2 separate regions of the Homo sapiens genome follow, and region 2 is linked to region 1. The links come from fine-mapping of genetic effects on gene expression. A gene starts in region 1. The other region holds a variant in brackets. All regions are shown on one strand. Distances are between the middles of the regions. Region 1 holds the start of MOCS2 (molybdenum cofactor synthesis 2). Region 2 has its middle 32 kb from the start of MOCS2-DT.

The links. PIP is the estimated chance that this variant, and not a neighbour inherited with it, causes the effect. A credible set is the group of variants that fine-mapping cannot tell apart.
Region 2: its variant is the best candidate, but not a certain one, in a credible set for the expression of MOCS2 in lung (TOPMed, PIP 0.51).

What each region holds. Positions count from the first base shown.
Region 1 is chr5:53,108,195-53,110,924 of GRCh38, forward strand. MOCS2 (molybdenum cofactor synthesis 2) reads right to left here and starts at 1,563. Exons shown (of 7, transcript NM_004531.5): 1 at 1,057-1,563; 2 at 328-449. MOCS2-DT (MOCS2 divergent transcript) reads left to right here and starts at 1,648. Exons shown (of 2, transcript NR_104654.1): 1 at 1,648-1,954. RefSeq lists a silencer at 1,302-1,591.
Region 2 is chr5:53,140,572-53,143,589 of GRCh38, forward strand. No RefSeq gene overlaps it. Among named protein-coding and RNA genes, the nearest start is that of MOCS2-DT, 32 kb to the left of the region's middle. The variant A/G (reference allele first, on the strand shown) is at 1,569.

The DNA of each region.
Region 1 (2,730 bases):
TAAAGCACACATTTTTAACAGAATTTGTAACAATTTCATTTAATGTTATAAAATTGCAGAAGTGACATGTGCAGTGTTTTGTAAATTATCAAAGAGAATATAATCATGTCCCTCTGCGGTTCACTGTGTTTTGGGGTAAAATATCTTTAACCTTTCTTAAAATACGGTGCACATTTAGAGTTTTTCAGGTGTTCCAAAAAAAATACAACTAACGATTCTTTTTGACATTAAGCACGGAAATCGAAATTAACCTTTTTACTTTTATCATTTATGTATTTTGAAAATATCTAAGTGTTACTCATATGCATTCTACAAATTTTTAACTACCCAGGATGTCGAGTTTCTATCTCCTTCCACAGCTGCAACGCTTTTATTTCTTGAGGCACAGAAATGGTCTCTGAACGAACTCCTGTTATTTCAGCACTTTTTGCAAAATACAATACTTCAACCTGAAAGTAAAGAAAATGCTTTTAATAACAACTCATACTCGTTTTCTGACTGTCAATGTTGAGCAGTTTTCTCATTTTCCAAATGTATTGCTTTAATCAAAGACAAATTTTATAAAGAAAATTAAATAACCCGTAAAAAATTTCAGTATACCTACAAGTTCAAATTCTGAAAACTTGTTGTTTTAAATACAATTCAGACTAATTTCTGGATGCCTTTTAGTTTTACAAACTTAAGTGTGCCATCATTAAAATCCTAAGTATTTATCTTCTAGGAAAACATGTTAAGCCTGCCTTAATTGACATAAAAGTATAGCACCTTTTATAAATATGTAAGCAAAGAACAAATGTTTGAGTCAAGAGATGAGTTACACAAATAAAATAAATGAATAAATAAGCGAAAAACCTGTTTCTCACGGTTGTCAAATGACCTTAGATTCCGGTCTGTATAACATCGTCCCCAGACGCTAAGGATTAAGTTATGCAACATAGTAAATCTGACATTTACAGAAGCAAGTAGGTTTGAAACACACGACAGACTGGAATTTGCTAGAACAAACTTGTGCCAGCAGCCTGGTATGTAAGGGATCCGACGAAGTAAAATAGGCACCTGTCACTCCGTGCAAACAACTCTTTACGAAATAATTACAGGTTTGCAAATGATCAAGGGTGTAGAAATCCACAGATGAAGCACAGTTCTTCACAAGAATTCTCCATGAGGTGCATTTCTTTTTAGATTAAAATTTTAGCTTCATCAAAACGAATAATCTGGGAAAGAGGTGGTCATAAAAGGTGGAGGCGCCTTCAGAACGAGTCCGTCCTTGCTGCCGTGAGCTGACAAGAGTTCTCGGAGAGGACCCGACTTCTGCTGGGGCAGTCGCAGTAAAGCCCGGAGACAGGAAGGGCCCGGGGGCGGGGGCGGGGGCGCCCCCGAACCCAAGACGCCGGCCAGGTTGGGGGCTAGTGGGGAGGTCCGACTGACCAAGGCTGGGTATGTGGAGGGAAAGGGCGGGAGAGACACGTCGAGGAGGGCTCCGCACCCAGGCCCGCACGCACACCCGCCACCCTTACCTGGCACAGCGGCACCATCCCGCCTAGGACAGCGGGACCGAATCACGGCCGCAAAGGCGCAGGCGCGGGCTCACCCGGAGCGCAGGCGTAACCCGACGGCGCTCAGCCCCCGCCTGCGCCTGCACGGAGCATGCGCACAACCAGCTCCGCCCCGCGCCGGGCTCTAGCTGTTTCCCTCAGGCGGCCTGTTCCACGCCAGGATTAGTTTTGCTTCGCAGATGGGCCGTGGTGGTGAGAGGAAGCAATCAGTATGGAAATGGAGAAATGGCTTACCATGCATGTCCTTCTCCCCAGGAGGGAGGTCGTGGTGCAGGCGAGCAGACGCCAGACTCCTGGACACTTGCCGCCTGCGTTATGGAGGCTTAGCTAATAACCTTGCAGGGGTCTTCAGGCTTTTCCACTGGCTCACCTTTAGGCTTCTGACACTTTTACCTACGGTATGTGAACCTCGAAAATTTGAGACAGGTCTCAGTTAACTTAGAAAGTTTATTTTGCCAACGTTGAGGACATGCCCGTGACACAGCCTCAGGAAGTCCTGAGGACATGTGCCCAAGGTGGTCAGGGCACAGCTTGGTTTTATACATTTTGGGGAGACAGGAGACATCAATCAATATGTAAAAAGTACATTAGTTCCTTCCAGAAAGGCGGAGACCGTTAAAAGCAAGCCCCGCCCCCCCCAACTGGGGGCTTCCAGGTAGGTAATAGACAGTAGCATTCTTTTGAGTTTCTGATAAGTCTTTCTAAAGGAGGCAATCAGAATATGCATCTATTCTTTGTCAGCAAAAGAGGTGACTTGGATAGAATAGGAGGCAGATTTGCCCTGAGTAATTCCCAGTTTGAAGGGGCCCAAGATTTTTTTCTTTCCCAGGTATATGATTAGTGTTTCTTAAAGACAGAATATCCGCCTGGTCAGAACATTCGAACTGTATGACTTTTCCTGTTTATTGGCTGCTCGGTAATTGTATACTGTCCGTCCAACTTTCCCAATTCTTGCCAACAAGAACTCTTGGCTTTAAATTGCTTGCGTCGTTAAGTGGATGTAAGTTACACGTCCCTTTCCTTGGAGCTCACAGTCCTGGGTAGGAGAGTTTTAAATATGAATGATAATTCCCTGTAATACTAAGGATCTGTGTTACATTTCAAGGGTGGAAGGGGAAAGTGGTTGTGTCACCTGGGGAGTGAGAAGATGCTGAGAAGGTAAATCTGCTAGAAT
Region 2 (3,018 bases), 33 kb after region 1:
AAGTTGGATTGATGCTGGGTATTTCATCTCCTTTTTGGACAGTTTTAAGAAAGCAAAATAAAAAATTTTATAGTGGCTGGGAGTAGTGATTTTTCTGAAACACTTTACCCCATTAAGAAAATAATATGGGCCGGGCGTGGTGGCTCACACCTGTAATCCCAAGAACCTTGGAAGGCCAAGGCAAACAGATCGCCTGAGGTCAGGAGTTCGAGACCAGCCTGGCCAATATGGTGAAACCCCTTCTCTAGTAAAAATACAAAAATTAGCTGGGCATGGTGGCAGGTGCCTGTAATCCCAGCTACTCAGGAGGCTGAGGCAGGAGAATCACTTGAACTCTCCCCAGACCTGTCCTAAGTGGTTGAAGAAGGAAGAGCATTCATGATGCTACACAAAACATCTTAACATAATTTACCCTGCACTTGGGCTCCAGTTAAGAAAAACAGAAAAGGTAAAGCTGTATTTTAAATTCATCTATTCCAGAAGAAATATTTCAGGGGCGGAGGAGCCAAGATGGCCCAATAGGAAGAGCTCCATTCTACAGCTCCCAGCCTGAGCAACAGAGAAGACAGGTGATTTCTACATTTCCATCTGAGGTACTGGGTTCATCTCACTAGAGAGTGCCAGACAGTGGGCACAGGACAGTGGGTGCAGCGCACCATGCGCCAGCCGAAGCAGGGCGAGGCATTGCCACACTCAGGAAGTGCAAGGGATCAGGGAGTTCCCTTTCCTGGTCAAGGAAAGGGGTGACAGACGGCACCTGGAAAATTGGGCCACTCCCAACCTAATACTGCACTTTTACGATGGGCTTAGGAAACTGCGCACCAGGAGATTATATCCCGCACCTGACTCGGAGGGTCATACGCCCATGGAGTCTCGCTTATTGCTAGCACAGCACTCTGAGATCAAACAGCAAGGCAGCAGCGAGGCTGGGGGAGGGCACCCGCCATTGCCCAGGCTCGCTTAGGTAAACAAAGCAGCCTGGAAGCTCAAACTGGGTGGAGCCCACCACAGCTCAAGGAGGCCTGCCTGCCTCTGCAGGCGCCACCTCTGGGGGCAGGGCACAGACAAACAAAAAGACAGCAGTAACCTCTGCAGACTTAAATGTCCCTGTCTGACAGCTTTGAGGAGAGCAGTGGTTCTCCCAGCATGCAGCTGGAGATCTGAGAAAGGGCAGACTGCCTCCTCAAGTGGGTCCCTGACCCCTGACCCCCGAGCAGCCTAGCTGGGAGGCACCCCCCAGTAGGGGTAGACTGACACCTCACACAGCAGGGTACTGCTCTGAGACAAAACTTCCAGAGGAACGATCAGACAGCAGCATTCGTGGATCGTGAAAATCCATGGTTCTGCAGACACTGCTGCTGATACCCAGGAAAACAGGGTCTGGAGTGGACCTCTAGCAAACTCCAACAGACCTGCAGCTGAGGGTCCTGTCTGTTAGAAGGAAAACTAACAAACAGAAAGGACATCCACACCAAAAACCCATCTGTACATCACCATCATCAAAGACCAAAAGTAGATAAAACCACAAAGATGGGGAAAAAACAGAGCAGAAAAACTGGAAACTCTAA[A/G]AAGCAGAGCGCCTCTCCTCCTCCAAAGGAACGCAGTTCCTCACCAGCAACAGAACAAAGCTGGACGGAGAATGACTTTGACGAGTTGAGAGAAGAAGGCTTCAGATGATCAAAATACTCCGAGCTACAAGAGGAAATTCAAACCAAAGGCAAAGAAGTTGAAAACATTGAAAAAAATTTAGATGAATGTATAACTAGAATAACCAATACAGGGAAGTGCTTAAAGGAGCTGCTGGAGCTGAAAGCCAAGGCTAGAGAACTACATGAAGAATGCAGAAGCCTCAGGAGCCGATGCGATCAACTGGAAGAAAGGGTATCAGTGATGGAAGATGAAATGAATGAAATGAAGCGAGAAGGGAAGTTTAGAGAAAAAAGAATAAAAAGAAAATGAGCAAAGCCTCCAAGAAATATGGGACTATGTGAAAAGACCAAATCTGCATCTGATTGGTGTACCAGAAAGTGACGGGGAGAATGGAACCAAGTTGGAAAACACTCTGCAGGATATAGTCCAGGAGAACTTCCCCAATCTAGCAAGGCAGGCCAACATTCAGATTCAGGAAATACAGAGAACGCCACAAAGATACTCCTCGAGAAGAGCAACTCCAAGACACATAATTGTCAGATTCACCAAAGTTGAAATGAAGGAAAAAATGTGAAGGGCAGCCAGAGAGAAAGGTCGGGTTACCCACAAAGGGAAGCCCATCAGACTAACAGCGGATCTCTCGGCAGAAAGTCTACAAGCCAGAAGAGAGTGGGGGCCAATATTCAACATTCTTAAAGAAAAGAATTTTCAACCCAGAATTTCATGTCCAGCCAAACTAAGCTTCATAAGTGAAGGAGAAATAAAATACTTTATGGACAAGCAAATGCTGAGAGATTTTGTCACCACCAGGCCTGCCCTAAAAGAGCTCCTGAAGGAAGCACTAAACATGGAAAGGAACAACCGGTACCATCCACTGCAAAAACATGCCAAATTTTAAAGACCATCAAGGCTATGAAGAAACTGCATCAACTAATGAGCAAAATAACCAGCTAACATCATAATGACAGGATCAAATTCACACATAACAATATTAACCTTAAATGTAAATGGGCTAAATGCTCCAATTAAAAGACACAGACTGATAAATTGGATAAAGAGTCAAGACCCATCAGTGTGCTGTATTCAGGAAACCCATCTCACATACAGAGGCATACATAGGCTCAAAATGAAAGGATGGAGGAAGATCTACCAAGCAAATGGAAAACAAAAAAAGGCAGGGGTTGCAATCCTAGTCTCTGATAAAACAGACTTTAAACCAACAAAGATCAAAAGAGACAAAGAAGGCCATTACATAATGGTAAAGGGATCAATTTGACAAGAAGAGCTAACTATCCTAAATATATATGCACCCAATACAGGAGAACCCAGATTCATAAAGCAAGTCCTTAGTGACCTACAAAGAGACTT